Regions from separate parts of the Homo sapiens genome. Here all the other regions are linked to region 2. The links come from fine-mapping of genetic effects on gene expression. A gene starts in region 2. Each other region holds a variant in brackets. All regions are shown on one strand. Distances are from middle to middle. Region 1 overlaps MTARC1 (mitochondrial amidoxime reducing component 1). Region 2 holds the start of MTARC2 (mitochondrial amidoxime reducing component 2). Region 3 overlaps MTARC2 (mitochondrial amidoxime reducing component 2).

Region 1 (11,060 bases), 49 kb after region 2:
GCAAATGGCTATGTGACCCGTAAGATTTAGTTCTAATGAAAGGAAGTTCCAAAATAGAAAAGAACAACTCTAGCTAGAAGAGTGATCCAGCCAGCGGCTGCCCAGGGGTCAGTGTCAGAATGAGGCTGGGGATGTAACCCAGGAGGATGTTCTGTACACAAGCCCTTCCCTCAACATCAGAAGGGCTGCAATGAAGCAATTCTTCTAGGAAAACTAGTTTTGCCTCCAAGAAGTCATGTCTAGAGTTGATTTCTTATCTGATTATGGGAAAATTAGAGTTGGTCCAGTTATATTCTTGTTATAGTTTCTGCATTTGGAATAAAGATGCAGTGTGAATGTAGTTTATAGCCTATCATAAAAAAATAGCATCACCTCAAAAAATGTAGTTATCTGAACAACGTCTAAAGACCCAGAAAAGTTCACAAAATGCAATACTGATGTAATTTCTACATTTTAGAGTTTTAAACTTGATAATATACTTTTTTGAATTTGGTGGCTTTTCAGATTAGAAAAGTGGTACATATTCATTGTTGAAAATTTGGGAAATACCAAGAAAAAAAAAAAAAAGAAACAAAAACTATCTGTGATAACTAATTAATATTGCAGCATATTTTCTTTCGGTCTCTATGCCTACTACTTAAAAACTAAACTGAAATAATACAAAAAATCCTTTAATATTGTTTATATACTTAAATTGATATGTTGAGTATTTTTTCATATTGTTAAAAAATCTTTAAGGATACCATTTTTCATGTTGGCATAATATTTCATTTTGTGGGTGTCCTCTAATGCATTTTAATATGCCCCATGATTAAACATTTTGATTGTCTTAATTTTTTTCCAGGTATTAAGAAGAATGTGATGAATATCTTGGCATAAATCTTTGTTTATATCATTTGTTGTTTTCTTAGGGAAAAAATTCTAGCAGTGGTTTTGCTTGAAATAAGAATATGGATCCTGTAGGCTTTTGATACACCTTGCTAAATTGTTTGCAGAATGGTTTTACCAATTCCATTTTAACCATTATGTTAAAAAACATTTTGCCATTTTTATGGGCAAAAATGATAATTTCTTGTTAATTTAATTTGTATTTTTCCCTGAATGAGGTAAGCTTTTAAATACTTATATTGCAATCTGTATTTCATGTTTGTCCATGTCTTGATTTGTGTTTATTTGCCATGGTTAGATATTTACCCATATTTTCTTACAGTTAATTTTTTTGTTTAATTTTTAATTCATTTGAAATTGTGTTGAAACTTTTTTCACAGTCCCATATGGGCATTTGGTCCATGCCCAAAAGACTAAACAAGGGCATGCTTGCAAATTGCAAAATGAAAAGGCTTAGACATGCTACGGTAGTATACAGACTCTTCGAGCAAAGATTCCAAGAATCTTCTGGATTCAGGTTTCTTTTGACAGCCCAACCTATTCTCTTATGAGGGAGCTGTAACCTCAGCCCACAGTTTCCTAAAGATTTCGGATGAGTTCTTGGGGCGCTGGGGTCGTGATCACAGGCAGTACACCTGTTTTCATGGTCGAAGATGTTACTTGATTTTCTCACATGCCTTGCCTGCTATTAATAAGATACACAGAATTAGGGACTTTGGCTATGGATTATTCAGACAAACAGCCTCAAACCTCAAACCATCTCAAGCCATGCCTACATTATCTTTGTCAAAGGGTCAAAGGTTATAGGAGCATTTGGAATTTTATTTTAATTCTTCACTTGCACTTTTTGGGACAGTGTGCAGGTGGGGTGCTGGGGCCAAGATACAGCAGAGGCCAATCAGAACTCAGGAGAAATGTGGCAGGAGCAGGAAGAAGGCAGAACAAATTCTACTCGTTGAAAGGCCTCAAGTTCTGGGTGATTATGAACCTGAACCCCAGGATCTAGAAATAGATGTTGCAATGGAAATCAGTGTCAGATTAGCAGGGCAGATGTTTAAATGGCCCAAGATAGATGCAAATGCTTTGACTTTGTAAAAATAATTATTGCCAATTGAAGCCCCAAGGAGTCAAAGCAGCCTTCCTGTCTATATCCTCCACTGTGTGTGCCCTCCCACCCTCCTATAAAAGCAACTAAGGGAAGCCCTGGGCTGCCAAATGGCAAGTTGAGACTGAGAGGGTGCCTTGGTGGGCTGTAAGGGTTTGACTGGAGAAAGGAGGGTGATTTTTTTTTTTTTTCTCATAGGCACCAGCAAAGAGACATCTAACAAGGAGATGACCTTCAAGGCTGTCTCCATACCTAGATATTTGGTAATGCTGGCATTTCACAAGATGCTTCTGAAATTAGCATTTCAGACATTAAACTGCACACACACACACACAGATGCTAAGCCCCCCACATATATTCAGTTCTAGAACTGGTGGATTTGATTTTTTGGGAAAAGTAAAAAATTATTTGGAGCTAAAGCCTGTGAATAAGAAAACGATAGGATCTTTTTTTTTTTTGGTTAAAAAATGAGGTTAGGCTTAAAAGTAGAAATAAGTAGATATGATTAATACTAGGTTAGAATGATTACTTCCCAAGGTGACTGCTCTGAAAGGTAATATCCATTTGGGTGTATAAATTTGGGTATGTTTATTTTATTCATTTTATTTATTTTTCATCTTGATCCAGAAAAGAGTAAGGCAGACACTCCTGGTCTTTGTAAATGGTCTCATTACTTCATAGGCCTTGGGTGCATATTTCAGCCCTCTGATTCTCAGGAGTTAATTTAGAATGGGTGGGGTGACAGTGTGTGAAAAGGTATCAAGTCATATACTACAGCAGTGTACTTTTCTGCATGAGTGTTACGCTTCAATAAAAAGTTTTTAAAAATTTATGAAAACTTTGAATACACCAATCTACTGCTTAATGTAACCCAGACACTGTTAGTAATGACTTCTCATTTTAGATATAAAGCAATAAAATAAAATTATATACAATTATATAGGATACTATACTCAATATATTTTACAATATAAAAATCCATTTATACATTATTATTAGAGAATGGATGCTTTTGTTGGATTAAATGTTTGATTTATGGAGTAACTATACAAAGATAGCTTGAAATAACTTGGTTGGGGGACCCTGGGTCATTACTACCTACTGAGCATATCCCAGTCCTAAGAATTGTTTGGGGACTTCTTACGGATTGTTCCTAATCCTCACAACAAAGTTCTGCTTCTACCCCCATTTTATTGATGAAGAAACTGAGTCTCAGAATAAGAAACTATCACCAAGGCCATGGAGCTAGTCATTTGTGGAAATGGAATGCTCACCCAAGTAGATTTACTTGATCCACTAAGCTTTCTCAAACTTCCAGCATTTGCATAACACCACGATGATAGTAGGCCAAACCATAAACCACCTGTACTCTTGTTTACTTAATATTTCTCTTTAAATTGATTCAGCTTATAAACTAATCTTAAACACATTTATTTAAAAAAGAAACTTTATGTAGTTACCTATATAATTTGCCAAGTATACGGCTTTGTATGGCTACCTATATAATTTATATATATGGGTTTATATATAAATTTATGTGGCTACCTATAAACCTTATATGGCTACCTGTATACAAACTTTATATGGCTACCTATATAATTTGCCAGAAAGTAACCAACACTCAATATGCTAAAACATTACTAAATTCTAGCTAGAAGCTGTTGCCTACAGAGGTCTCTGGACCTAAGGTGTGTTCTTTCTTTGTTAAAAGAGGAGATTATCAAGTGTTGCTAAAAGGTAAAGATTTATTACCACTAAACTGAAATTTCTCTCTGTGCAATTCACTGTTATTTAATGCTATACCCAGGTGCCATCTACAGTTATCTTGAATGCCAGCAGTGGTAATGGTCTTGCATTTTGTGAAACACTGGCCTACACCATAGCATTTATTTTCCTCTCCATAGCTGTGAAATTCATATAACGCCAAACAGCCCTGCACAGGACTATGTGCTGGGGAGTGGGAACTTCAAATCCTACAAAGTTATAACTTGCAATCAAATCCAGTAGATTATTATTGTTATTATTAAATAAATATAATATTATTGTTAATGATTGTTATATATATAGTTATTATCTGTAATGTTTTAGGCTTTATAGAACATTTTCATATTGTTGCTGTACTATACTGGCAAAGCATAGCCAGGCCTGTGAATAAAGATTTCTGGTCGCTATTCAGCTGGGTGAACTAGATTTTGCAGTAATTCTAAGTTTACTTTATACTGATACATTAGTTTTCTTCTGGAGAACTCAGTACATTTTTAAATATATTATTTCATTTCATCCTCCCTGCATTCCTTCCAGGTAGGGAGACACAGTTGTACAAAACTTGATTTTTAAAATGAGGAAAGCAATGCTTAAAGGGGTGCTTTCATTTTCATTTGGCCTTACACAGGTTTGGAGTCAGGACCAGGACTAAAATTACATCTTCTGATAATTAAGAAATGACAGTAATGTTACAGCTAGGAGCAGCTTTTCTGATATAGCTGGCACATATTAGGGTGCATGGATTTTCAAAGCCATGTCTGCCCTTTGCTCCTGCTACCCCTGCAGAGTGCACGGCCTGGAGATAGAGGGCAGGGACTGTGGCGAGGCCACCGCCCAGTGGATAACCAGCTTCCTGAAGTCACAGCCCTACCGCCTGGTGCACTTCGAGCCTCACATGCGACCGAGACGTCCTCATCAAATAGCAGACTTGTTCCGACCCAAGGACCAGGTGAGAGGTTCTGCTGCCTCCATGGGTAGAAAGCAGTCACCCCCAGATCAGGGGGCTCAGGTGGCATCTCTGATGACCTCGGCTCTGTTGTTTTCTGGGGCAGCCCTCTGGTAGCTCAGATCACAAGCAGTAGGCAGAAATAAAGCCCTTCCCTTGGAAGCATTGTTTGTTTCTTTGTTTGGGGGACTCTTGAATTTTTGCCCTTGAGCATCTACCTTCCTATTTGTGTAAGCATTCTGATGCCAGTAGGGTTTCAAAACTGTTCTGCACCAGTGTCTTTTTTTCATTCCATTCTGTAATTGCACATGGAGTCCAGAATTTTTACAGTTTGCAGTTGTATGTCAGATTCCAATTGTGCAAGTTGGCATGGGTATGGAGATACACAGACTCAAATGATCAGCCTTAATGGCATAAAGCTCTAAGGATTCATCATAAAAGCAGGGTTTGTAGTACCATATACTGCTTTTACCATGGCCATAAAAAAAATAAATTATGCTGTAGTCCTTACTGCTAAGGAGGCTGAGGTGGGAGGATTGCTTGAGTCCAGAGAGTTGAGGCTGCAGTGATCTGTGATGGCACCATTGCACTACAGCCCAGGTGACAAGGAGTCTCTGTCTCAAAATATATAAATAAAGAAACAAGCAAATGCATAAATTATGGTCAACATAAATATTAATTTGTAAGTTGCATAAAATAAGTATTCATGGAATTAGTGAACATTTAAATCAAACATAATGAGGTCATCAAACTCAACCACCTTATTAAACATTTGAGAAATGGGAGGCTTAGAAAGGTTCAGTGATGTCCCCAAGGGCACATGCCTTGTGGCAGCTTAGGATTGATTCTGAGTCCTTGTTCCCTTCATTCCACCATGCAGTTTCTGCTATCTGCAAGGCTATT[G/T]AAAACTTCTGAGTCACTGTGACTTCTATTAAAAGAACAAGAGAACTACTTTGAAAGATTGTGTGTGGGGTGGGGTGGAGCATGGAGGCTATGTCTAGGAACTAGGCACACCTAACCACTGAAAAGTTGGTGTGCCATGTGTTATAACAATGTCTATTTCCTTATCAGATTGCTTACTCAGACACCAGCCCATTCTTGATCCTTTCTGAGGCGTCGCTGGCGGATCTCAACTCCAGGCTAGAGAAGAAAGTTAAAGCAACCAACTTCAGGCCCAATATTGTAATTTCAGGATGCGATGTCTATGCAGAGGTAACACTATGCCCCTTTGGATCTTTCCTTGGATTTGACTTCTTTTTTAAGGTATGAGAGTCTTTGACATTGGATTAGATTATTCTGAAGGGTGCATTATTTATCAACTCTGTAATACATAACAATTTGATTTTTAGATTTATTCAGCACTTAATAAGTGCAGACTTCTGTGTGGAGGATACAAATGTTGATGGGTCAGAGACTGTCATCAAGGAGGCAGTTCAGTATCTAAGGCTTCTAAGGAGAATTCTGAGTTGACAGGTTCGTTGTTGAGTCACATTTTCTTGCATAGACTACATGATCTGTGTGGGCCATGGAACAAAGAAAGTGTGTGCTCCTGTCTTGTTAAAGGATGGTCTTACTGTTTAGTAGACGGCTCTCTTGGAGAAGACAGGCATTTACTGCAAGGCTGCTGGGTGAGGGTTGGGAGAGGTTGTTGCCCCTAAGCTTCATGGCACTACCCTGAAATGCTTGCAGTGCCACCTTCCATCTGCCCTCAGATGTTTGCGTGGTGACTTAGCTTGAACAGCCCTGAGGCTTGGTTTCTGGGATTCCACAGGATTCTGGCAGCAAATTTACCTTTGTAATAAATGGCCTTTGGCTATTTAACTTGATTCTCTCCCTGGGCTTCCATGAAGGCAGAGGTTGGTGGCCTAGAGGCATGGTGAGTGGCCACCAGCTGTGGATACTCAACAGAAACCCTGACCCACAGCTAGGAATTCAGGAGCTCTGGTTGTGCCTCAAATTTATGTTGAGAAGGGAGAGGTAAAGGGGACCATATAGTGGTTCTTACGTCTGCCCATTTCCTCCATAACAGGGAAAAATGGAATCAAAGCAATTGAGTTTTAACCTTTTATCCTCAGAGGAGCCAATTATATTCTTCACTTTTGCTGTACGGAGGCAAAACTATGCTGAAAGAGAAATAATCTAAGAATTTGATTCCCACATTCAAACCAGAAGATGTGACGGCTGGTTTCAGCTTCTGCACTGGCTTCTGCATGACTTTGAGCAGCCCCGCTAAGTCCCATTTACCTTGCCTGAACAATGAGATGATCATATTTCTGCCTAGGGTTACCTTAAGGGTCTGTTGAAGGGTCAGTTTGGATAATGTAATTTATGAGATGTATAAAAGCAATATCAATCGATGGAGGATAATAAAAGTACGCCCAAATCCACTGCTAATGCTTCATATAAAATACTCATTGCTCCAAACTTCCAAGGGTAGCGTTTCTTCTAAAGATGGTGGAGAACTTCCTAGTGTGAGGCGGGTGGACTGTGTGCATGTCCCCCAAGGTCCTGGGTTGGGCATCTCTCAGTGCTTCTTTGTGACAAGAAATTTCTGCCTGTCCTGCTCCTGTGCACCATGGGCCAGCCTGACTTAGACAACAGGAAAATAATCAGTGTTTGGTTGCCTTTGACCATCTCCTTGATATTCATCTTCCACCAGCTATGGCTAGGAGAGCCATTTCTCCTGAGAACGTTCCTTCTCAGGAAAAGAGAAATGAGTGGGGAGGGTTTTGAATGAATACTTGTGTTGCGCTTAAGTATGTTGTCTCTTCTATGCCTCACGGCAGCCCAGCGGGATAAAGCTATCATTCCTATCTTACAGGAGAGAAGAGAGAGGCTTGGGGAGGTGAGGTGGCCTGCCCTAGGCTATACCACAGCAAGGAGGGGCTGGGTTTTGAACCCCAATTGTACAAGGCCAGAGGAACCCTGAGAATTCTAGGGCATATGTATGGGGCTGGGACAGCTGGATTCTAATCCACCTGCTTCCGCAAGTGACCGTACAAGCCTGGACAGGTCACCAAACTCGCCGAGGCATCTGCTTCTTGCAGTTGTAAAACACGGGCAGTTTCAATGACTCCCTCGCCTGATGGGAGCTGTGAGAATCAAGGTCGATGACAATTTGTGGAAAAGTTCTAGGACATTAAGTACCACAGGGAGGTAAGGAAGAGTTTCATTCCTGGGAGTTTGGCTCAGGTACCAGCTTTTTCCCTATGATCGACTTTAAGCTTTCTTTCTCCCCTGTGTGATTTGTGCACCGAGGGTCATGCTGAAGCCATTTCCACCCCAAAATTCTGTGACAGTAAGATTCGGATGACAGGAGAAGAGGAGATGGCCCAGAGTAGAACTTCAGATCTCGGAGATTTCTTTCAATTGAGTCTTACTCTAAAAACCCGTATCTCTCTCTCTATCTCTGAGTGTTCCCTAGTTGAGAACATTCTGTATGTGAAGCTGGGCGGTAACACAATGGTGGCTGAGCCGGCCTTGTTTTTAGTAATTCACCCATCATCGAGTGGGTTGCTGCCCCTGTGTGGCATGCGCTGTGAATAGACACATGAGAACAAGGGTTGAAGAAATGCACTTGCTTCTCCTAAGGAGCTCAGTGTGGTCAGATAGTGAAAAGTCACAGCACAGTGAGATATGGCCAGGAGGGTGGCGAGCAGCCAGACGTGGGGACGTGACTAACACCTGCATTGTGGGGTGAGCTGAAGCATGGGGCACCCAGGGCTCTGGTCTCAAACCCTTTCTCATTTGTCTGCACTCACTTTTCTGATCTGTTCTTTCTTTCCTTTTTTTTTTTTATTTAATCATCTGTTTTTAAGACCTTCTCTGCCCTGAGGACCCCTAACTATATCCTTCTGCCAGAGCTTTCCCCTGCTTCTCCATATCTCCATGTGGATGTCTAATCCAACGTCAGGATGTCTGAAATTGAGGGTCAGGTATCCACCCCAAAGCCTGCTGTGCTGTCTCGCCCATCTCAGCACACAACAGCTCTGACTTCCGCTGGCTCAGGCCCCAAACTGCGAACCACCCCTTGTTCTTCTCTTTCTCTCACATCCTAGGTTCCTACAGTTGACAGATCTTGGTGGCTGGGCCTTCCCCCCCACTCCCCTCTCTGCCCGGATGCAGTCACCACTGGTGCTGCAGCAGCCTGGCTTCACTGGCCTCCTTGCCCCACCCTTGACCCAGCCCTGCACCATCCATGGGCTGTTCTCAGCACATCCATCAAGGTAACCCTGTTGATGTAAGTCACATCATGTGATTTGTCTGCTCAAAGCCCTCTCATGGTTCTCCACCTTTCTTCAAGTAAAAGATGGGATCCTTATGGATTGCCTGGAAGGCCCAACATGACCTGCACCCCGCCAGCTCCCAGCCCCTTCTCCTCTCACTCCCCTCTGCTCTCTTACTCTGCCCCAGCCATACTGGCCTTTTTTCTGGGCCCCAGCTGTGTCCTCTGCCTGGCATATCTTCCCTCACAGGCCTCATGGCTCACTCCAGTGCCTCTTTCAGTCCCCTGCTGCGGGCTTCACTGACCCCGCTCACCCAGCCCCCCCCACAGCACACACCCCACCTAACAAGCCGTGTGTACTCAGGTATCAGTGTATTGTCTGTTTCCCCTATGCAAGCTCCTTGAGGACAGGGGCTGCTGTATCTCCAGCCCCTAGGAGAGCCCCTGGTACATAGAAGGTGTGCACTAATTATCTGTTAAATGAATGACCTGGACAAAGTATTGTCCAGGAGAAAGGGGGGCACTGAGGGAGGGGTACATACACAGGGCTATGAAGGTATGAGAGAATGGCCATCTTGCAGTGCTGGGGCTCAGGAGAGGAGGGGAGCTGAGAGCACAGGTACTTGGTGTCAGGTTTTGGGGAGTCTGGGAAGAATTTTTGGCCAGGGAGTGACTGAATCCGATTTGCATGATACACATTTGCCTCTGCCAGGAGCCTGGAGAAGGATTAGCGCAGGCGGGGCCAGGGTGCAGCTGGGAGAGCAGGCTAGCATGGAGGAAGGCCGAGGACCTGCATGGAAGTTTCTGGAAAGCAGACCCACTCCTCATCTCGGAAGCTACCTTCTCAGCAACTGTGGCTTTTCGCTGCCTCCCTTCATCATCGGCACTCCCCACACACATTTCTTACACCTCACTTCTCCCTGAAGCCACAGTAGAGACAACCACCCTACCTGCCACAGTCAGTGACCGTTTCTCAGTCACCACCACCCCGCTCTGAGGACACATGGACACTACTTACTGAAACGTTTCTCCTTTAGCTGTACTGCCCTTGCTTCTCTGCTGTTTGTCCTCATCCCTTACTTCCAAAAGTTCTGGCCTTGACCCTTTTCTCTCCCCTCCTTGGTGATCACACTGTCTCCTGCAGCATCGCCCTCTGTCACCTGACATAGGTCCCTCAAATGTCCACCCAGGACTCCCTCTGGAGTGCTGCACCACAGTTCCAACTCTTTGTTGGTTGACAGAGAAACTCAGACTTATGTGCTCCCACCCCAGCCCCTACACCCTCACCCCACCTCCCTAAACTCATTCTTTCTTTCTTTTTTGAAACAGAGTCTTGCTCTGTCACCTAGGCCAGAGTGCGCTGGCATGATCTCAGCTCACTGCAACCTCCGCCTCCCGGATTCAAGCGATTCTCCTGCCTCAGCCTCTTGAGTAGCTGGGATTACAGGCAGACGCCACCATGCCTGGCTAGTTTTTGTATTTTTAGTATAGACAGGGTTTTGCCATGTTGGCCAGGCTGGTCTCGAACTCCTAACCTCAGGTGATCCACCCGCCTTGGCCTCCCAAAGTGCTGGGATAACAGGCATGAGCCACTGCGCCTGGCCCCCAAACTCCTTCTGTTGACTTCACAGTTTCTATCCAGGGCAGCATGTTTTTTTCTTTCACCCAGGCTCAGAGCGTGACAGTCGGCCCTGGCTCCTCCCTCTGCTGTGTTCCTCCCAGCCCCAGCCATGTCGGCTCCCCTTTCTATCCTTAGCCACCAGCCAGATCCTACGTTTGTTACTTTAAGTTTGGACCACTGAGTGCTCCCTCCTGAATGTTGCCACAGCCAAGCCTCCTAGAGCTGATCAGCGTGATCTCTCCCGCTCTAAAAGTTTGTAACAAATCATCAGTGTTGCTGACTTGCTCAGAAGCCTTTAGTGGCTCTCCATGTCACAAAGGTCCAAACTTCCCACTCAATCATTACATTCCTCTGTAACCTTGCCACAGTCTGCTTTTCCAGCCTTTATTACCAACTGTATTAGTTTATTTTCATAGTGCTATGAAGAAATACCCGAGACTGGGTAATTTATAAAGAAAAAGAGGCTTAATGGACTCACAGTTCCACATGGCTGTGGAGCCCTCACAATCAT
Region 2 (11,060 bases):
CTGTGTAGTATATCCACAGCATATACTACCTGGGTACTGCTGCTGATTATTCATGGCTCTAGGGCTCTTTAGTCAGTAGGTGATGAATTCTGCCAGGACTGAATCCTTCCCTTCAAGGCAGCAGGTTCCCTTCTGCCCTAGAGTATGTTTGGAAATGTCATCTAGGACCTAGGGCCTGGAATGGGGGCTTCACACCTCTGCCTGGTGTCCTATTTTCCTGTGACTGAGCTGGTATCCAAGTTGCAAGACAAAGTACTCTCCTTTTCTACTCAAGTAAGAAGACTCTTTCAGAGCTGTGAGCTGTGCTGCCTGGGGTTAGAAGCGTGGGTCAAGAAATCCCTTAGATGTGCTGGCTACTGTCTCACTAGGTTGCATGGCCCCCGAGTCCACTGGCTGTGAGCCCAGCACAGCACCAGGACTTGCTTAGAAGTTGCAGTCCTTGTGGCTTATACTGCCTTTCAAGTTTATTTAGTACCCCAGAGCCCGTTAGCCTGTGGAAGCAAGGCTTGCTGAAACTTAAGTTGTGACTGCTGGGATGGGTGATTCCCCTCTGGTTGGGGCTGGTCTAAGTGCTCCTTCCATGGGTGTCAGCTGAGTTCTGCCCATATTGCTTACTGCTGTGATAGGAAAGCACTGAGTTCCAATGCAAAGTTCCACAATCGCTGTGCTCTTCCTCCCCCAAGAGCACAGACTCTCTCTTGGCCACTGCCAGGAGACTGGGGAGGGTGGTACTGGCAATTCAAGACTATCTTTCCTACCCTCTTCAGTGCCCCTTTCAGTGATACGAAGTTAAAACCAGGTACTTTGATTGCTCACCTGATTTTTGGTTCTTATAAAGGTACTTTGTAGTATAGATAGTTGTTAAATTGGTGTCTCTGCATGGAGGATGATCTATAGAGGCTGCTAATCAGACATCTTGCTCTGTCCCTGCCACTTGGTTTTATGTGTTCAAGGGAAAGTAGGTGAGAGATCCAATGCCATCTTCCTTTCAAAGCTGAAGGTGCTGACTATCAAGCTTGAGTTTCTAATCTGGTGCTTTCAGCCCTGGTCATGTGGCTGGATTTTCATAGTCACTAGGGCATTTTGACTTCCTAGCCATGGTTCTTCTTCCACTATATATATATGCTTAATATCCATTCAAACTCCTGAGTTTAAGCGGCTCTTCTGCCTCAGTGTCCAAAGTAGCTAGTATTACAAGCATGCACCACCATGCCTGCCTCATTCTCTCTTTTTCTGTTGTTTTAAATTTTTTGTAGAAACAGGGTCTCATTATGTTGCCCAGGCTGGTCTTGAACTCTTGGGCTCAAGTGATCCTCCTGCCTCAGTCGCCCAAAGCACTAGGATTACAGGTGTGTGCCACTGGGCCTGGCCTAAGGGGACCTTTGATTAATGTTTGGCCTGCATCAAACTGGGATGTAAGTGAGAAATAAACTTTTATTTTGTTAGAGCATTGAGATGTTGAGGTTGTTACAATATTTTAGCCTAGCCTGCGTCATGAGATTTGTTATATGGGTTGAAGGTTGACTATCCTCACTGCCTGATAATCTGATGTGCTCATCTCCCCAGGAAAGACAAACTGCTACATGGCCCTGATGAATACTTCCATTGGCTGCTGGGTACTCACCTTCCTGAAGAGGACCTGGCTAAGCAAGGTAATATTTGGGTTTTAGGCTTCTTTTTTTCTCTGGTTTCTTGGTTGATATTTTAATTGACAGAGTTTTCTTTATCTATGTCAGTGCCTCTAGGCAGACAATGATGTCTTATTCACTAGAAAGATTTTTCCTAAGCAGAAGTTGCCAAAATATGACAAACTAGGGGAAAAAGTTATGACTTGGGAAGGCATGATAAAAGGGTAATTTTCTTAATTTATAAAAGGATCTTATAAATTAACAAAAAAATAGATAAGTTGATTCAAATCAGAAGGGAAAAAAGATATGCAAACAGCCAATTAGACTCATGAATCCTCAACCTTTGATATGGTTTGGATCTGTGTCCCCAACCAAATCTCATGTTCAATTGCAACCCTCAGTGTTGGAGTTAAGGCCTGCTGGGAGGTGATTGGATCATGGGGCTGGTTTCTCATGGTTTAATACCATTCCCCTTGGTGCTATCATCCTGAGAGTGAGTTCTCATGAGATCTGGCTGTTTAAAAGCATGTGGAACCTCCCCCCTCTCTCTGGGTCCTGCTCCTATCATGTAAGACATCCACTGCTGCTTTGTCTTCCACCATGAGTAAAAGCTCCCTGAGGTCTCCCAGAAGCAGAAGCCGCCGTTCTTCCTGTACAGACTGCAGAACTATGAGCCAATTAAACATTTTTTCTTGATAAATGACCCAGCTTCAGGTATTTCATTATAGCAGTGTGAGAATGGACTAATACAGCCTCTCATCACCCCTCACTAATTCTACAAATGAAGATGCTGGGCTGCAAATGTACACATTACTGATAAGGAATTTCCCTGCTCCCCTGAAGGCACCCCCAACCCCAGCATTGGTGAAGCTTAAACAGGGCAGGCTATGATAGATAATGGCTGGTGAAGACAGCAAAGACTTGGCAGCACTCACCATGGCAAAGTTCCTCACTTGATGTCTATCCCCATCATTTTGCACATGAGGAGGTGGAAGCATGGAAAGGTCAAGTTACCCATCTATCTAGGTAACTATTTCTTCTTTGATGTCTCAAAGATACCTCTCACTCGCTGTTCACAATAGGCTCATCATCTTTTTTCCCAGACTATCTTCTTCTCTTGAATTCTCTTTTTTTTTTTTTTGAGACGGAGTCTCTCTCTGTCGCCCAGGCTGGAGTGCAGTGGCGCGATCTCGGCTCACTGAAAGCTCCGCCTCCTGGGTTCACACCATTCTCCTGCCTCAGCCTCCCAAGTAGCTGGGACTACAGATGCCCACCACCATGCCTGGCTAATTTTTTGTATTTTTAGTAGAGACGGGGTTTCACTATGTGAGCCAGGATGGTCTCGATATCCTGACCTCCTGATCCGCCCACCTCGGCCTCCCAAAGTGCTGGGATTACAGGTGTGAGCCACTGTGCCCAGCTTCTCTTGAATTCTTAATCTCTGAGAATGGTACCCCCATCCCACCCCAGACTTTTATGCCACAGAGCCAGGAGGCCCCGTGGGCTCTTCCTCTCCCTCTGGCTCTGTGTTCTGTCATCACTATCTCTTGTTAATTCTGTCCCCTGACCATCTCTCCTAACCACATGTCTATCTCCAGCCCCACTGTTATTTTTCCTTGATTTGGAATTACATCAGCCTGAACTAGGGCATTTGCAACTCATCTAACCATCTTTGGTGTTACTCTTTCTCAGAGCAGCCAGAATGGCCTTCCTAGCACCCAAGTCTAATCATGCCAGACTGTTGTTCAGAATTCTGAGGTGTCTCCACATTAAGTAGAGATAAGATGCCTGTTGATCTGACCTCTGCCCACCTGTCCTGCCTCAACTCCCGCCACCTGCTGCATGCACAGGTACATCCTAATACAGCTGGATTGCTGGTGGTTGCCCAAACATGCCACACTCTCTTGTTCCTTCCATTTTTTCAGGCTATTGCACGTGCTGCTCCTTTTGCCCAGAATCCTCTCCTTTACCCATCTCCAAGCCCCTCCTCATGTTCAAGTCTCAGCTCCAAAGCTCCGCCCTCTGAAAACAGCACTGTCCTGAGATTCAGCTGCTCTTTTGCCTCTGCATCCTCTGCATCTTGACCTTGCTTCTCCTCTGACATTATCCTCTAGACTTGCAGGGGAGGTGTCAGTCTTCTGGGGAGTCAGTGAACTGGATGGAAGGGCAGCTTCTTCTAAACTTTAAATCCCCAGTGCCAATCTAGGACGAAGCCTGGTGAATGATCAATATCTATGTGGTGAAAGAAAGAGATGATTAATCAATAAGACATTTGCCCTGTCTGGGAGCTCACGTATAGCGAGGCGATGGCTTTGTAAGCCCCTCACTCTGACAGCAGGCTTGTGGGCAGGGAGGACTCTGACCCTCCTCAGGAGTTGGGAGAGGCAAAGGGGGTCAGCTACAAGTGTACACACATCACATTCACCACACCATGCTTAAAAAACAAATCCATAAGTCGCAGCTGCCAAGCATGATGTAAATGTATGGGGATTGAGGGACTAATTCTGCTGGCCTGAGGTTTTTTCCTGGGTGGGGAGAGATTCAGGCCCTGTTTTGTCTTTCACTTTTCACAAGGAACAGCCAAAGGGAACCTGGCTCCTCTGGTTCTCCATCCTTCCCGGAGTCTCTTCCCACACTCCAGAACGGGCCCCTTTCTCTGGAGGTGGCCAGCCCAGATTTGGGGGGTGGCCCACTGGTTGGCCTCCTTAAACTTTCCTAGAACTGTGCCACAGTTTAAGGGACAAACTTTTGAAAAACAGAACAACAACAAAAAACTTGAAAGACTTCAAACCTTAATTTGTCTGAGAAAATCCACTGTTAACCCAATAGCTTGCTTGAATGGAGGTGTTAAAGATCAACAAAGCCAGACATTAGTTAAACCATGAAAACAGATTTTACTCAGTAACTACTTACAGTAGGAGAAAAAGCTGATCATTCTCATTTGTGCATAGCAGAATGGGCGTTTTAAAGGGTGAAGGAGAGAATAGGGCCGGGAAGCTAGCAGGGGATCAAGTGAAAAATCATGAAGGGGCGGTCAGTATTAATGACGGGCAGCTGTGCCTGGAGCTGGCCGTTATGAAGCTGGGATTCTATCCTCCCACAGAGACTGGGGGACAGAGGCCTATCCTCCCCATGACTGCATTTCAGAGCAATGGCTTTCAGGTCCTTGAGAAAGACACTTCTGAGGTGTAGGCGATACATATACATCTCAAAGCAACAGAGAAAGGATTCACAGTTGTAAGCCCTTTTAAGAAAATATCCTAAAAAAGGGAGGTCAGGGGCTTTACCATCGGGTGTTGGCTAGAATAAACGGGGAATTCTCCTGGCTGCCTTGAGCTTTCTCGGGAAGACATTTTACTGGGGTCGAGGTTAGGCGGCAGCGGAGGGTGGGGGACCTTGAGTCATGCTCCTATAAGCCACGCTAGAGTTCCTCGTCTTTGAGTGCAGAGGTTTAGACTGTGTCTTTGTGTGCAGAAAGTCCTGCAGTTCTCACAGCGACCTGCCAGAAAAAGTCGTTCCCAAATGTTTGTAAATCCTCCGTTGGGCAACCCGCCTTCACGTTCTGCGGTGATCTTGTCGAGCGACTAAGCGTGCAGTATTAGCAGAGAAGGGGGTGGCAGAGTGCTGGCGCTGAAGGTCATGTTGCATGGGTAACTGTCGTGTTGTAGGGGCGGGGAAGAGGGAGGAGACACTGACCACCCCAGAGGCCGCCCCATTAGCTCGCTTGCTTTGGGCGGCGTCGCTCCCACGGCGCCCAGGGTACCCCCGCCGCTGTCTGCCTGTCTTCCTCCATTACCGCGCAGGCTTGGTCACCGCATTAAGGCATTCCCGCTCTCCGCGGAACTGCTCTGCCGTCTCGGCGGTGAAAGTGTGAGAGGGTCCGTAGTTGGGTCAACTTTGACTCCTCTCGCCTGCCCGGATCCTTAAGGGCCTCCTCGTCCTCCCGGTCTCCGGTCGCTGCCGGGTCTGTGCGCCGGTCCGCGCCCGCCCTCGCTCTGCCATGGGCGCTTCCAGCTCCTCCGCGCTGGCCCGCCTCGGCCTCCCAGCCCGGCCCTGGCCCAGGTGGCTCGGGGTCGCCGCGCTAGGACTGGCCGCCGTGGCCCTGGGGACTGTCGCCTGGCGCCGCGCATGGCCCAGGCGGCGCCGGCGGCTGCAGCAGGTGGGCACCGTGGCGAAGCTCTGGATCTACCCGGTGAAATCCTGCAAAGGGGTGCCGGTGAGCGAGGCTGAGTGCACGGCCATGGGGCTGCGCAGCGGCAACCTGCGGGACAGGTACAGCACAGCGCGGGCGCGGGGCAGCGCGGAGCCTGCCTGGGATGAGGAGCGGGGGGGCAGGTGGGGCCCGATCTATCTGGGAAGGACTATAGAGGTTTGCCACCTGAGTTTCTGGGCTGACTGTTGGGCCGTTGGTCGTTTATCTGGGAAGGCCAAGTTCATGCCAGGTTTATTTTTGGTAAAGTAGGTAGGGGCAATCCCTTGCCCTTCCCTAGACGAGAGATTCCTCCTCTGTAACAGGAGGGGGTCTGACCTGTATCTCCAAGTCTCCTTAGCTCTAAAGTTTGTGATTCTATCCTAGTATACCAAAGTAGAAAAATAAAGCTATTGGCACTAGAAAGCAGCAAGAAAGAAACCAAGTGTTGTTCAAGGACATTGGCTTAGGCCTTGCTGGGCCTTGTTCCTCACATTTCTCCAATCCTGGGGGTGCCCTGGAGGCCTGATACACTTTGATGAAGGATGAGCAAGTGGCATGGGGACTCTGGGGCAGAGGTGATACTTGCCATTAAGGGAATAGTGTCCCCCCTTCTCCCATAGGCAGAGTTGTTCACAGCCTGGAACTTTGGGACTTTTGGGCCTGACACATAGACATTTCATACTTAGGATTAAGATGCCTTCTTCTTTTTTTTTTTTTTTTTTTTTGAGACAGAATCTCACTTCGTAGCTCAGGCTGGAGTGCAGTGGCACTATCTCAGCTCACTGCAACCTCCATCTCCCAAGTTCAAGCAATTCTCCTGCCTCAGCCTCCCAAGTAGCTGAGATTACAGGTGTGCGCCACCACGCCCGGCTAATTTTTGTATTTTTAGTAGAAACGGGGTTTCACTCTGTTGACCAGGCTGGTCTCAAACTCCTGACCTCAGGGAATCCACCAGCCTCGGCCTCCTAAAGTGCTGGGATTACAGGTGTGAGCCACTGTGCCCAGCCAAGATGTCTTCTTATCTGGCCGAGATGGTTTAGCTGTGGGCCTGTGTCCGAGGGGAGGGAGGTTTGCAAGTTGATCATTCAAGGATTCCTCTAGCAGAGAGCCACCTGCATCCCTGTGTTCACTCCAGGACACGCGGATGCACTGTTTTCTGAAGACTGCTGCCCTCTTAAAGAAATGTGGACTTCCATGGTGTTGGAAAACTTCAGAGAGTCTTAGAGAAGTGTTGTGTACACAGACCATATGAATCATGGGAGGATTTTCATTCTCCCACCCTTACCCCAGATTTCTTATCCTGGAGAGCTTTTTCAACTATAACTTCCTGAGATTCCCATCCCAGGACTACGGAAGCAGAATCACCAAGAGTGGGGCCAACTCGTGTAGAATGTTTAAATCTCCCCCTGGTGATTTTGATGCTATAATTAAAGGATTTTATCCGAGACCATGAAGAAGAAGAGGATGTTTAGAGCTTATTCAAATATGAAGGATAAGAAAAGCCTTCCTATTACTGGAAAGACTTCAGGCTGTGTGGGACTGGACACCTTCCAAAAAACTGGGAGAACCAAATTCTCACGATGCATGTCCAGAGAAAATTAGTGTTGCAGGCTAGGTTGCACTACTTCCTTCCTCGCTTGAAGGGTTGGTTTCACAGACAGTTTCCAGTTCTAATCTGCGTTTCCTCTGATCACCTGAAGAACGGTTTCTTTCCCACTTCTCTTTGTCACTGCTTTGCCATGACTACTGCAACCATGGAAAGAAAATACGTGTCCTTTGCCTGTGCTTTTTGCTCCCACTGGCATCCTAAAATAAATACAACTGTATTACCTTTCCCTTGTTTTAAACAATAAACGCTTAGGATGGGGTGGGGTGATGTGAAGCCTGGGGTAGAGGGAAAGGCAATGAAATTAATGTTATTCAGTGTTAAAATGCAGCAGACACTGAGCTAAATCCTGTCGCATAGATTAGCATATTTAAACCTCATAACAATCTTGTGGGCTAGATAGTATTATCACCATTTTGCAAATAAGGAAACAGTATCAGAATGAAGGAGTATCCCATCCAAGGCCAGAAAACCAGTGTGTGCTGTGGGGATGTGAACTCAGATCTGTGTGAGTACAGAACTTATGCTGTTTGTATGAAACCAGTGCATGATATAAAACTATAAGGATTGCACTGAGGATCAGGAGACTTTGGGCGAACTTCTACAAAGTTGTCTCATTTGCAAAAGAATGAGGTTGAACTTCATGGTCTCTAAAGCCCCATTTTAACTACATTTTATTTATCAAAGCATAATTAACAATTTGAAAGCAGGCTTGCTGGAGAGAACTCTGTTTGATAGCCGCTGTCTTCTCCACCTGACAATTTAATAACACTACTACAAATGTTCCTAGAGTTCAGGGAAAGGCCTCATTTAATGAATTCCATTCTGAACCTGTGTCTTTGGAACTAACTGTTCCAAGGAGCTGGGATTTTCCTCTGGAAGTGCTCTGGGTCTCAAATTTCTAAAGGTATTTTGTTCAAAGCTCTTAGTATACTTGTGAACACTTGGCTTGAGCACCCTAAGCATTGAGTGTTTAAAGTCCACCTGGCAGAATGCTGGCATTCGGTGCCTGGTGCAGTTGCTGGGAGGGCGTGCTTGTCCTCCCTGACCTTGGAAATCTCTGCTCTCCTTAGCAGCCATATGTGAGTTGATCAGTTTTATCTCTCTAAACCCTTACTGAAGCCAGTCCTTTATTTCTTCTGCACAAATGATGAACTGTTGGAGAAAGGAATCCCTTAAGTTTATTATTGTCCAGGGTGTTATTCCCTGCCCAATTCCTGCTGTTTTTCTCCTCCCACACTCAGTAGTAGAGTTCCTGCTTTCCCTCACTTTTCAGTCCTTCCTGCTCCCCAGGCCAGTTTGTAATTGAGAAATGATATTTTTTTCTGTTGTTTTGGGCTCCACTTACCCGTTGCTGTTGGTTGTTCGGGGCTCTATAGCTCTTTTGGGGAATCGGGGCTCCAGGCTTCTACACTGATCCCTCTACCACATACTCATGTTTTACCTGTGAATTCAAGGTGCTGGCTTTTAGTGTTGCAGACTAGGTTGGGGTAACTTGGTTATGATGAAATCTATGCTCCAGACTTATCTCTTCTTTCAGATCTGGCAGAATAGAACTAGTTATTCATTCACTGGGCATCATTTTGTGCACAAGAGGTGAAAAATAATATTGCCCAGGTTGACAGGGAAATGAGATGGTTGGGGTATGTTACAAATGGTAACCTTTTAACCTGTGATTGCTGTATTTGTCCTGTTCCAAAATTGGACTCCCTGTAAGTTGCCAGTTTTTCAGTGACAGTGATGAGTGGGAAACCTCTAGTGACAACTTCCCACTGTTAACCTCAGCAGTTAACACCTGTATTATTATACAACAGTCTGGAGCCACAGGCCAGGCTGTGAGCCACGGTGAAGGGCGACATTAATAAGGGATGAATGGGAGATGAGAAGATTCAGCCCATGGAGAAATAATGTCAGAAATAATGTGCAAACAGGTTTGCCACTCCTGTTTGGACATGGCTCTGGTTGTGTGCAGATCTCAAAGGGAGTCTTGTCTGGGGAAGGGGCATGTTGGAAGTTAAGGGTGAAGGCTTTAGTGAGGCTAACCAAAGAAATGTGCACCAAGGGACAAGGCTGGAAATAGGGAATAGGGCCCAGCCCTGTGAGGCATCTAAGTCAGTGGATGCCTGCCTATTTCACTGTAGCCCCATTCTCTGGGCAGACATCCTCAGATTTACAGAACCCAGCCCCAGGATGAGTGAGCCAGAGAACTGTGGGATCTAAAGACATCTTTGACCAGGCAGGATGGCTCACATCTGTAATCTCAGCACTTTGGGAGGCCAAGGAGGGAGGATTAATTGAGCCAGGAGTTCCAGACCAGCCAGGAGGTCCAGACCACAGTGGGACCCCATCTCTACAAAAAATAAAAAGATCAGTTGGGCGTGGTGGTGTGTGCCTGTAGTCCCAGCTACTCAGGAGACTGAGGCAGGAGGATCGCTTGAGCCCAGCAGTTCAAGGCTGCCATGAGCTAAGATCACGCCGCTGTACTCCAGAGCCTGGGTGATAGAGTGAGACCCTGTCTCCCTCTCTCTTGATATTAATTAAGTATAAATATATATAAATGAATAAATAATACACATATGCATATATACACTTAGGAAATGGTGGGCTGGGCACGGTGGCTCACGCCTGTAATCCCAACACTTTGGGAGGCCGAGGTGGGCAGATCATGAGATCAGGAGATCGAGACCATCCTGGCTAACACGGTGAAACCCTGTCTCTACTAAAAAAAAAAAAAAAAAAATACAAAAAATTAGCCGGGCATGGTGGCGGGTGCCTGTAGTCCCAGCTACATGGGAGGCTGAGGCAGGAGAATGGTGTGAACCCAGGAGGTGGAGCTTGCAGTTAGCCGAGATCGTGCCACTGCACTCCAGCCTGGGTGACAGAGTGAGACTCCGTCTCAGAAAAAAAGAAAAAAAAAAGAAAGAAAGAAAAAGGTGGTCTCCTCAGTGGGGTGGGGACTTGCTGCTACCCAGTGTCACCAGCTTTTTGGAAGCAGGTAGTCAAGACAGTTACTGGAATGCCTTTACACTGCCACACCATCATAATGCCAGTTAGCAGAGCACAGGCTGCCAGCCATTGTCTTCTGGTGTGGTTGCGGGGAAGGGACAGTTTAGCCAGCACCTGGAAAGGACTTTACGGATAAGGAGGTTGCAGATGTAAGACTATCTGTCAGGGTCAGGACAGGGCAGAGACGGAGCTCCCTGTGCTGGGATATTGGATGTCCTCCTGAGGTCTCCTCAGCCTTTCCCTGATGGCTCTGGTCATATTTTGGAATGTCTCCCTGGGAGGAGCCGCCCCTGCTTCTGGAAGGGGCTGTGCTTTTTATCCTCCTCACATTTGGAAAGCCTCTGGCTTTCAGACAATTTTTACTTATCAGTGCCTGCATTTTCCTCACCCGCTAGTCTGCAGATTCTATCTTCTTTCTAAAATAGTGATATTGGGCTAGGCACAGTGGCTCATGCCTATAATCCCAGTACTTTGGGAGGCTGAGGCGGCAGGTCACTTGAGGCCATGAGTTCAAGACCAGCCCAGCCAACATAGCGAAACCCCATCTCTACTAAAAGTACAAAAATTAGCTGGGCGTGGTGGTACACACCTGTAATCCCAGCTACCCGGGAGGCTAAGGCAAGAGAAT
Region 3 (11,060 bases), 19 kb after region 2:
ATGGGAGATATTGTGGAGGGGGGAGCCAGGGGTGACTCCCAGGTAGATGGAGATGCAAGAGAAAACTGGCTGGAGAAACAAAAGTGAGAAGTTTGTTTGGGACTAAATCCAAGTTTCCTGGAATTATAGAAGCGGACTTTGTTCTGACCCGCCCCTCACAATCTGTGACATGTGCTTATTTCAGGTGCTGGCGAGGCGCCTCCCCCTAAGGAAAACTGTCCCCTGAGCACCTACAGCACCTGGCAGCTATTTTTCAAATTATCAGATAATACAGAGTGCCGACATGTACGATGGTTTATACTAGGCTCAGTGCAAAAGACCAAAGCCTCTGATTCTGCCATGAGCTAAGGTTTAAAATACAAGGACCTCAGGGAATTTCTCTCCATAGCCCCTAAACTACAAGCTCCTTGAGGGCAGGGGTTTTTATCTGCTTTCTTTACTGCTGTTTCCCCACTAGAACAGTGCCTGGTAGGTGCTCAGTAAATGCCTAGTGAGTGAATGGTGTTGTTGAGGAAATTATTACTGGAGTATAGCTGATTGGCAGCAGGTCCTCGCTGTTTGAGGATGATGGGGGAAGGGGGTCGCTGCTGGAGTGGGAGTGGGAACCCAGGAAGAGGAAGCCTGGTGAGTGACATTGGCCCAGAGCCGGCCCTGGCTGCAGCCCTGTCCCTGTGTATGGGCAGGAACTGCTCCAGCTCCTGGCCACTGCAAGCCCAAACTCACATCTCTCTCCTTCCTGAACACTGCTCCCCTCTTCTGCACTGAAGAGGTTTTGCTTCTGGACATTACTTAGCTTTGTAGTTGGTCTAGGCCATTTTGTGGAGTGGTGGGGCCTGACTATCCTGTGTTCTTGGCAAGGTGGCCTACCCAGACTACTGCCCGCTCCTGATCATGACAGATGCCTCCCTGGTAGATTTGAATACCAGGATGGAGAAGAAAATGAAAATGGAGAATTTCAGGCCAAATATTGTGGTGACCGGCTGTGATGCTTTTGAGGAGGTAAGCGACCCACTGCTTTTGTGCATCATGCTCAGATGTGCTGCTCGCGGTGCTAAGGGAACTCTGCTCTAGCCAGAGCCAACTCAGATCCGCCAGGGTCCAGTCATTCACTCATTGCTGCTGCCATCACTCATTGCTTGCGGAGTTGTTCACCCATTGTTGCTGCCATCAACACGCTGGCCTCGGGGGGCGTTGCTCTCACCCGTTAATGCTTGGGCCCCAAAGCAAACAGTCAAAACTCGAAATTGTAGCAAATCTGAGGTTGGAATATGTAATCATAGCTCAGAGATAACTGAGGGAAGCGAAGATAAAGAGAAAGATAAAGCCATTTTCCACTTCTCTATCACTCAGCAGAGCTCTCAAAGATTTGAGACTTTCAGAAGACCCATGCCCCAAAGTGCAGACCAAGAGGACACAGGCAATCTGCCCCGGAGACATACCATGCTGTGGCCTGAGTTCTCTCCCAGGGCACCCACATGCTCTTCTATGGGATTGACACCAGACATTTCCACCCTTTTCAAGGACACACCTTTGTGGTCTTAAGGGAAAACTACATCAGAACCCAGTAGAAACCCTGAACTCTGTATGTGATATATATATAGCTGGGTATTGCTTGGTGATAAGAAGGATTAGCCATCATATTAAGCCTCAGGGGTGAGCTAAACTTTCCGAGCAGTGGAAGTAACAATGACAAATACCATTTATTGGGTGTTTACTGGGTGCTAGGCATTGAGCTAAATAATCATTTCAGATAAATTACTTTATTTGATCTTTACGATAACCCTGTGAAATTTGTGTTACTGTCTCCTTTTTATAAGGAAAATGAAACTCAGAGGTGTTATACACTTTGCCTAGCAGAGAAATGGTGACTGGCATTAGAACACAAGACTTGTAACTCCAGCATCTGTAGAGCTGGGGTGACAATTCCAATTTAGAGATCCCAAATAGTTAACTCTGAGAGAAGAGGCTCTTAAACACCCTCTCAATTCTTTGCTCCCCTGAATGAATGACCGTACTTCCTTTTGTGTGAGTAAAATGTGCCCTAATTTTTTTTTTTTTTTGAGAGAGAGTCTCGCTCTGTCACCCAGGCTGGAGTGCAGTGGCACGATCTCGGCTCGCTGCAAACTCCACCTCCTGGGTTTGTGTGATTCTCCTGCCTTAGCCTCCAGAGGAGCTGGGACTACAGGCACATGTCACCACCTTGGCTAATTTTTGTACTTTTAGTAGAGATGGGATTTCTCCATGTTGGCCAGGCCAGTCTTGAACTCCTGACCTCAGGTGATCCACCTGCTTCAGCCTCCCAAAGTGCTTGGATTACAGGCATGAGCCACTGTGCCCGGCCCCTAATTTGTTGATAAACATGGTTCTTTAGGATAAACCTTTGCACTGAGCCTTGTATAAACCATCGTACATGTAGGCACTCCGTATTATCTGATAATTTGAAAAATAGCTGCCAGGTGCTGTAGGTGCTCATGTCTATAGTCCCAGCACTTTGGGAGGCCGAAGCAGGAGGATTGCTTGAGCTTAGGAGTTTGAGACCAGCCTGGATAACATGGCAAAACCCCATCTCTACTAAAAGAATATAATAATTAGCCAGGTATGGTGGTGCGTGCCTATAGTCCCAGCTACTTGGGAGCCTGAGGTGGGAGGATGGCTTGAGCCCCGGGCCGGAGATTGTGCCACTGCACTCCAGTCTGGGTGACAGAGCGAGAACCTGTGTATTTAAAAAAAAAAAAGGAAAAGAAAAGAGCAATAGCAATGTATACAGAAGTTGTCTACTTGATGGTGTTATCTTGTCATTTGTTATCTAGTTGAATTCCTCTGTGCCTTTGTTAGTTTTTAAAATTCAATCATCCATTATAGGTCAGGCATGGTTTGTAGGAGCCCAGATACAGATGAAAAGATATGGATCCTGCTCTTCAGAATGTTCCAACATGAGGGGCATGGCCAGGAGACAATGACAGCCCAGTGTCAGACGTGCTTTAGTGTACACACTTAGAAGATACCAGAGATGTGTAGAAGTAGAACTACCTAAATCTGCCTGGAGAAGGGAGGCCTGGGCATGGGGAGGGGTCAGGTCCAGGTCCCCGGAAGCAATGCTGTTCACCCTATACTTGTGTGGATTGTGTGCAGGCCAGGGTCAGAGGAGGGTCTTTATGGGTAAAGGTGACAGGCAGTTGGGAGGCCTAGAAGCACAAGAGGCCATGAATAAAGGGGTGCTTGGGAGCATTTTAGAATCACAGGAGCATGGGGGTAAAGGAGAAATGTTAGGGAGGCTGCACTGGAGCTGGCTGGAGGCCACCACACCAAGGAGTTTGGATTTTATACTGTGGATATTGAGGAGCTGGTAATAACTCTGAGCAAGGAAGTAATTATGATTTGCATTCTTCCAATAAATATCTGCCGAATGCCTGTACAGTGTGCCAGGCACATATTATTCTGGCAACTCTCTTGAACACTCATTGAAAGGCAGGGAAGCCTGAGACAGAAATACCAAGGCCAGGCCCAGTCACTAGAGAGTCTTTGTTTTTTTCTTTTTTGAGACAAGATCTCACTGTGTCACCCAGACTGGAGTACAGTGGTGCAATCACGGCTCACTGCAGCCTCGAACTCCCCAGCTCAGGTGATCCTCCCACCTTAGCCTCCCAACTTCCCAACTAGCTGGGACTACAGGCATATGCCATCATGCCTGGCTAATTTTTGTATTTTTTTGTAGAGACAGGGTCTCCCTATGTTGCCCAGGCTGGTCTTGAACTCCTGGACTCAAGCAATCTGCCTGTCTTGGCTTCCCAAACTGCTGGGATTATAGTCATGAGCTACCTCACCTAGCTAAGAGTCTTTTTTCTAAAGTGCAGATTAGCAGGCCCTACCTGAAACCTACATGAGCATTGTGACAAGGCCTGCATCTCTGCACTGGCAGCAGCATTCCAGGTGAATCTCATGCCCACAGTGTCTGGAGAAGCACTGAGCTAGGAGAGTGCAGGGACCACGGGGGTCAGAGATGATACAGGGTCAGGGCTGGGAGGGCAATGGAGAGTGCCAGAGAGGAAGAGGCCCCCGACGTACTCAGGAGACTAGTTTCTTGAGGGAAGGAACTAGATTTTTCTAAGAATGAATCTAGACTTGGTGGGACCTGAAATTTATACAATTTGGGGGCCCCTTTAAGAAAAAAATAAAATTATTGACAAAAATATATAAAATTAACAAAAATAAAATTAGGTTCAAGGCCTTGAAAGGTTCTGTGCAAATAAGGCGCCTGAGGCTCAAGCCTCAATGGCTTGCCAGTAAACCCACCTCCCCCTCCCAGTTCTAGTTTCCCACATTGTCTAGTAGGATGTACATAATATCAGATTCATTAAATGCCTGGCAAACAGCAAATGAAATTCTCTGTTTCAAGAAGTATGTTACTAAAGATTGGAATGGAAATTAGTTCATGGAGTAGAAATTAATCCATGAAGCAACAGTTTTTCCACAGGAATCCTGTAATTCTTCCATTATTTTCTGAGAAACTTTCTTTTAGGGAATAAAATGTTTCCTGATTTGTTTCCACTAAAGAACAGATTATTTTGATATTAATTTTAGTTTAAAATCCTGAGCCAAGGAAATAAGAAAAAAGACACTCTTGTCCCTGGCTGAAGCATTTTTGCTTTCCTGTACCTTGCCAACCTATAATTTTTGCTCTCCTATAACTTGTCAAACTGAACCTAAGGCTAATGTAAACCTAATCCTGCTTTCTTGGGCAGTGAGAGTGGAGTTGTCTCTTCTTCTTCTTCTTTTTTTTTTTAAATAATAAACTGAAAATAAAAGTACAAAAAAAAAAAAAAAGGCTAGGCATGTCCTAGAACTTTGGGAGGCCAAGGCGGGCAGGTTGTGTGAGTCCAGGAGTTCGAGACCAGCCTTGGGCAACATGGTGAAACCCCACCTCTACAAAAAAAAAAAAATTAATTAATTAAAAGTGAAAAAAAATAAACTGTTAAATGAATTTGTGCTCCCAAGTCCATTTGTCATTTTATTCCTGTGCTATGATGGGCTTACAGAAGTAGCAAATCAGGTAGAACACTGATTTTTCTCGAACAATCCTCTGGCCACGCACATTAAAAAAAAATCCTTCTTATTAAATGACGCTAATGTTGCTGATTTATTCTTCCTTAAATTAGGAAGCCCAGTAGTTAAAGGCCTAATGCATTAATCTGTTTACCTGGTACCATCACAAAACTGTAACTCTTTCAATGAGTAGGACTCTCTTAAATATTAATGTAAAATGAATATTCAATAGGCCAATTAATCATTAAAAATTAGCAAACCTCAGCATGAAATTCAGGCCATCATTTATTGCAAAAACACAGAGTAATAGGAGAATGTATTGTGTAACATTTACTGTCTGTGGCCTAAAGTACTTTGTACTTTGTCCGTGTAGCTCAGAATATTAAACGATTTTTAAAAGGCTGCTTCCTTGGGTCAGTGTGGTGTGCTTGAGTTCCGGGAATGCAGCAAAATGAAGTTTAGAAATAATGAAATTGACCAATGCTTCCTATCTCTGTAGTTGGCCATTGTGGGGTCAGTGTTTACTGATCTTTGCTCACTGTCCTGATGAGATAAACTTGATATTTTTAATGGAATAACTTGTTTGTATCAGTCCTCACTCCACATTATGAAAGAATTGTGGAGAAGCTTGCAGAAAACTCTTGGTATGTTATCTTTCACTCAGGAAGTGTTTCTCCAGGAAACTTCCAGAGAGGGAGATTTTGAAGCTGAACAGCTGTGGTTGGACTCTGAGCCTCACTGCTTACTGGCTGTGTGGATTGGGTCCTCCCAGTCCTATCCTTTCCAGCTGTTGAGAAACACAGTTTTTGTAAATCATGATCACTAGACTTTTCAGTCCCCAGAAACTGAGTTTGGGTGGGTTAGGATTTGAGATAACAAGTCCGTTTTCTGGTGTAAGAACAGCAGTCTCTACCAGGCTTCAGGGATTTCTTGAAGTAGCGGTAATGATAACAATATACAAAAATAGCAGCAAGAATCACGACTCACTGCTATTGAACACTTACTACGTTACAGGCACCGTGCCAAACCCTTTACATGCATTATCTAATTCTAGTTCCCTTTCCAGACTGTGGGTCACAACCCATTATTGGGTTCTAATATCAGTGTAGTGAGTCCTGACTAACACTTTTAAAAGAAGTACAGGAAAGTATAGGGTGGAATAAAAGATATCAGAGTAAACTATATGTAGAAGGGTTAAGAATTGTCTTGCAAAACTCTCTTATGTGTACACATGGGAGAGTATTAGGAAACAGTGTAAAATGTGGTTTTCACTGTGGGTCATGGCTGAAAATGTCTGATAGCCATTGAGGCGGGTAGTGTTTTGATCCTTGTTTTTCAGATAAGGAAACTGAGACTCAGAGAAGTTGAGTAACTTGCTCTCGAGGTC[G/A]CATAGCCAGCGTGTGGCCAAGTGAGGACTTGCACTGTGGCTGGCCGTCAAAAGTCCCTGAATATCAGCCAACTACACAACTCTGCCACCTTGTTAAAGCCATTTTCAGGTCATTTGGCAAACCTGTATAGGGCCCCAGTCACTGTGGATGGGCTGGGGGGTCATGGGTGTCAGGGGCTGCCCTCTGAAAGAAGCAGGACAATTGTGCTCAGTAAAAAATGGAGAAGAAGAACAGGTATCAGCTTTGGCATAAGGAAGATTAGCCTGAATTTCATGTTCATTATCTCTGTTAGAAGCAAGCTGAAAGCATCTGAAAGTCATTTTTCTTTCGTAATGAAAAGAACCAAGCAGGGGCCTGGGGAATGCAGGTGTCCCCTCCCTGCAGGCGTTTGTGGCATGCCTTTCAAGGTAAAAGTTCCATGTCCTCATCTGGGGAGCTTCTGACATGCGTATATTTTTAGGGGACTCCAGCAAGAGTCTTGGATGGATTTGCCTTGATTAGGAAAAGCTCCAGTGATTAAAACAGGAGGATAGGCATCAGGAGTGGATGGAGTAGGAATACATTCACATTTCTGAAGAATTTGCCAACAGAACTCCTTTACTTAAGGAGATCTCCTTCTACATTTGCTTTTTTGATTACAACTGAGTCATTTGTAATATTTTCCAGAGGGGCTTTTAGGGGTTGGGCAAGAGGGAGTGAAAGATGGCGCAGCCAAGGACTACAGGACTTTCGCCTCTTTCTCATCAAGGAGAAGGAGGAGATGCTTCTGCGAGGTTCCTTCCGCACAGCCTCACACAGCTTTCTTATCACTACACCCAGTGAGTAAGCGAGACACCCCTGGAAAGCCCGCAGCTAGGGCGGCCAGCGGAAGGCGGATTAACAGGAGACCTGCAGTGAGATCTGCCTGGGCCGGTGGGTCCCCCTCTGGCTGCACATCGGGCCAGCGGACAGCCTTAAACAACACTGGTGCCTCCATCTCAGGTGCAGCTTGGGCAGAGGGAGCTTTTGAAGCTCCCCTGGGGTTTCTAGTGTGTAGCCAGGGGTGGGAACCACTGGGCTAGGGTTTTCCAGGGGAGCAAAGTCGTAACTGGCAGGAGTTGCGGATGTGCCTGGAGAGCAGAGTGGCCTTTAAATCATCGTGAGCTTGGCCTTAACCTCCCTGAGCATGATTTTCTGATCTGAAAGTTAACAGGTTCTACCAAGGGACTTTAAAGGCTCTTTGCAGCCCTCAAGTTGTTTAACTCCCTGGGCACTTTCTTCTCTCTCTCTCTCTTTCTCTCTGTGTATGTGTGGTCGGTAAAGGCACTTTTTCACAAATGTCTCTCAGAACGCCCTGTCTGATAGAACCGCTGCATTGGCTTTTTCTTTTTTTTTTTGGCGGTCAGATCACAAGGTTAGGAGATCGAGACCATCCTGGCTAACACAGTGAAACTCCATCTCTACTAAAAATACAAAAAAAAAAAAAAAAAAAAAAATTAAGCGGGCGTGATGGCGGGCGACTGTAGCCCCAGCTACTCGGGAGGCTGAGGCAGGAGAATGGCGTGAACCCGGGAGGCGGAGCTTGCAGTGAGCCGAGATCGCGCCACTACACTCCAGCCTGGGCGACAGAGCAAGACTCTGTCTCAAAAAAACAAAAACAAAACCAAAAACAAAACAAACAAAAACTCATATTGCACATGCTGTGTTCTAGCTTTTTTGTAAGTGAACTCGTTTAATCTTAACAGTCACTTAAAGTCCATTTCTCGAGATGTCCTTCACCATGCTTTTTCTAGTTTATCCCTGCCCCTGAGTGAGCAAGGCTTTGTGTGAGACCTTGTTGAACTGAATTCGAGGCAAGGACTTGGCCATTGAGTTGTGTTTATCAGGTCTCATCCACTTCTAAATATGTTACATTTCAGACCAAGGAGGAAGTGTGTCTTCAGAGACGGTGGTGCGCGGTATTCCCCTCGAGTGAGTGTGATACGTGAACGCACGCTTATCGATCCCTTGTAAGGAGAGGTCATTCACTTTACAATGCTACCCAAGAGACAAGCCCTTCAAATACAGATGTTGGAGTAGAGACGGCAGAGTGGAGGTAAGGCAGGATTGATCTCAGAGACCATGACCCCCCATACCTTTCTCTCGCTGTTCTCTGGAGGGCTGTGAGTCACTGCATGGACAAAGTGTGCTGAAAAGCAGTCCAGCACAGCCCAGGCTACTGCCTTTGGGAATTCAATTGGTAGCTGCCCCTCCCAGCCTCTGCTGTTGGTCATGTGGGACCACCCAGCCAAGCCCAGAGTGGGAGACTAGAATGTCTTATGTTCATCAGGCACTAAAATTCTCGTGGCCGTAACCTCCCCTGAGAGGAAACTGGTATGTGGGTGGAACACACAGACGGCGTCAGCCTGCAGGATGTCCCAGTCAGTGAATACACTTCAGAGCAACATGGCCACATCTCAAGAGCTCTGCTTCCCTTTTTGTAGCCTGTTGCTGGTGTTTCTAAGAGTAGGTGGTCTCCAGAGAACAGAAGCCAGCTTCTAAAAAAGCCTTAGGCAGTCCAGGCTCCGTGGCTCACGCCTGTAATCCCAGCACTTTGGGAGGCCGAGCCAGTCGGATCACCTGAGGTCAGGAGTTTCAGACCAGCCTGACCACTATGGTGAAACCCCATCTCTATTAAAAATACGAAAATTAGCTAGGCATGGTGGTGGATGCCTGTAATCCCAGCTACTTGGGAGGCTGAGGCAGGAGAATTGCTTGAACCTTGGAGGCAGAGGTTGCAGTGAGCCAAGATCGTGCCACTGCACTTCAGCCTTGGTGACAGAGTGAGACTGTCTCAAAAAAAAAAAAAAAAAAAAAAAGCCTTAGGCTTCTGTCTTTCTCTTCTGCTAGGATTTTCCAGGTCCAAGTGTCCCAAACAACAGATGCCTCCAGGCACATTTAATATGCATTAAGGTTTACAGAAATGTGTCTCATGCGATTCCGTAGGAGCATACACCAGATATTGTGTAATGTGAGGATACTTATCCTTGAAGGATAAAGCACACTGGGTCTCCACACAGTGCCGTTCAAACATGGGGTCATGAGAAAGCCCAGGGAGTCTGGAACCAGGGCTGTGGAAAACATTTTAGTGATTAATTTCAAGAAGCTTTTCAGATAGTTAATTTTTTTCTGATTATAAAGGATATTTTAAAAAGTAACTCATACTCTTTGCACAGCTTGAAAAACACAGTATAGATTAAAGAAACGCATAAAAATTCCTCATTGGGTAACAGCGCCCACCAGGGCCTCTCGGGGGGTGGGGGACAAGGGGTGGGAGAGTATTAGGACAAATACCTAATGCACGTGGGGCTTAAAACCTAGATGATGGGTTAACAGGTGCAGCAAACCACCATGGCACAGGTACACCTATGTAACAAACCTGCACATTCTGCACATGTATCCCAGAACTTAAAGTAAAATTAAAAAAAATTCTTCATCATCATACTATTAAAAGGTAGCCTGTGATAACATTTTGTTGTGTTTCCAGTATGGTTTATACAATATTGTAGAAATAGTATTAAATTCCACCATTTTCATTTAATGGCACATGGCAACCAGCTCTGTCTTTGCAAATCCTTCATTTGCGTGGTTCCAGTGGTTCCATGTTAGTCCATCCTGTGACTCTGCAATAACTTGTTTAGCCATTCCCTTATGATTGAGCATTTAGGTTGTTTTCCATTTTCTCTCACATAAATAATGAGCAGCTTTGTAAAATGGTGGGTATCTACATTTCCAAAAGTATTCTTAGGAAATGCTAATGCAGCATTTTAAAGGCTCTCTGTATATATTGCCAAATTGCTTTCCAGAAACCTTATACCAATTTATATTCCCTCAAGGTGAGCATAAGCGTGCCCTTTTCATTGTGCTCTTCCTGGCATTGCTATAATTTTTACTAATTTAGTAAGTGAAAAGTAATGTCCTATGTAAGTTGGTAATTCTTAGTGTATGGCATCCTGTCTTAGTCCCCAAATTCTAAAATATTCATATTTGCAGCAAATGTTTGAGGGTTTCCTAGTGCTAGTCTCTGAGATAGATGCTAAGATTACAGAGATGACCTCACTGTGTCTGCCTGCAAGGGTCTCAGGGCCAAGTGGGATCAAGGCTACAGTAGGTAGAGGGCTGCAGCTGAAGTCAGGACATCAGACTTGAAGGATCCCAGTGAGAAAGAGGCACTCTGGGCAGGGTGTGTGTGTGTGTGTTTGTGTGTGTGTGTGTGTGTTTGGGGGCAGTGGATGCTGAAGACTTGCTTGATATGAACTGGATCCAATTGCGGGAACCATGGCATGGTCTTTCTTTATAAGAAGAGTGATTAGATTTTGAAATATGACATTAAGGAATATTCATTAGCTTGTATGTCTTAAGAATAGAAAAAATAACTTTCGGTTTGAGATCATTTAACTCTGGTATAATGGGAAATATATATTTGGGCTTCGTCTCTGGTTCCTGGCACAAGCTCCTAAGCCCTTGGAATTTCCCGAGTGACGGGGTAAGAGGAGTTTCTTTTGTCATTCATAGCAAGCCCCTTTCAATCATACCTGACTTTATGCTAGTGAGATGACTCTTGGGGAAAGAGGGGTGTCCCTAGACAGCTTTGGTATGTGAGCTGGTTCT

The links.
Region 1: its variant is fine-mapped to the expression of MTARC2 in left ventricle (GTEx, PIP above 0.99).
Region 3: its variant is fine-mapped to the expression of MTARC2 in whole blood (INTERVAL, PIP above 0.99). The same link has a PIP of 0.9 or more in adrenal gland and pancreas.

The regions. Positions count from the first base shown.
Region 1 is chr1:220,792,100-220,803,159 of GRCh38, forward strand. It overlaps MTARC1 (mitochondrial amidoxime reducing component 1), which reads left to right. Exons shown (of 7, transcript NM_022746.4): 3 at 4,544-4,706; 4 at 5,775-5,915. Among named protein-coding and RNA genes, the nearest start is that of MTARC1, 11 kb to the left of the region's middle. The variant G/T (reference allele first, on the strand shown) is at 5,607.
Region 2 is chr1:220,742,904-220,753,963 of GRCh38, forward strand. MTARC2 (mitochondrial amidoxime reducing component 2) reads left to right here and starts at 5,419. Exons shown (of 8, transcript NM_017898.5): 1 at 5,419-5,900. The coding sequence starts at 5,629. It overlaps LOC124904516 (a long non-coding RNA gene), which reads right to left and starts at 5,912. Exons shown (of 2, transcript XR_007066884.1): 1 at 4,916-5,912; 2 at 1,417-3,860.
Region 3 is chr1:220,762,052-220,773,111 of GRCh38, forward strand. It overlaps MTARC2 (mitochondrial amidoxime reducing component 2), which reads left to right. Exons shown (of 8, transcript NM_017898.5): 4 at 859-999. Among named protein-coding and RNA genes, the nearest start is that of MTARC2, 19 kb to the left of the region's middle. RefSeq lists an enhancer at 7,076-7,370. The variant G/A (reference allele first, on the strand shown) is at 6,431.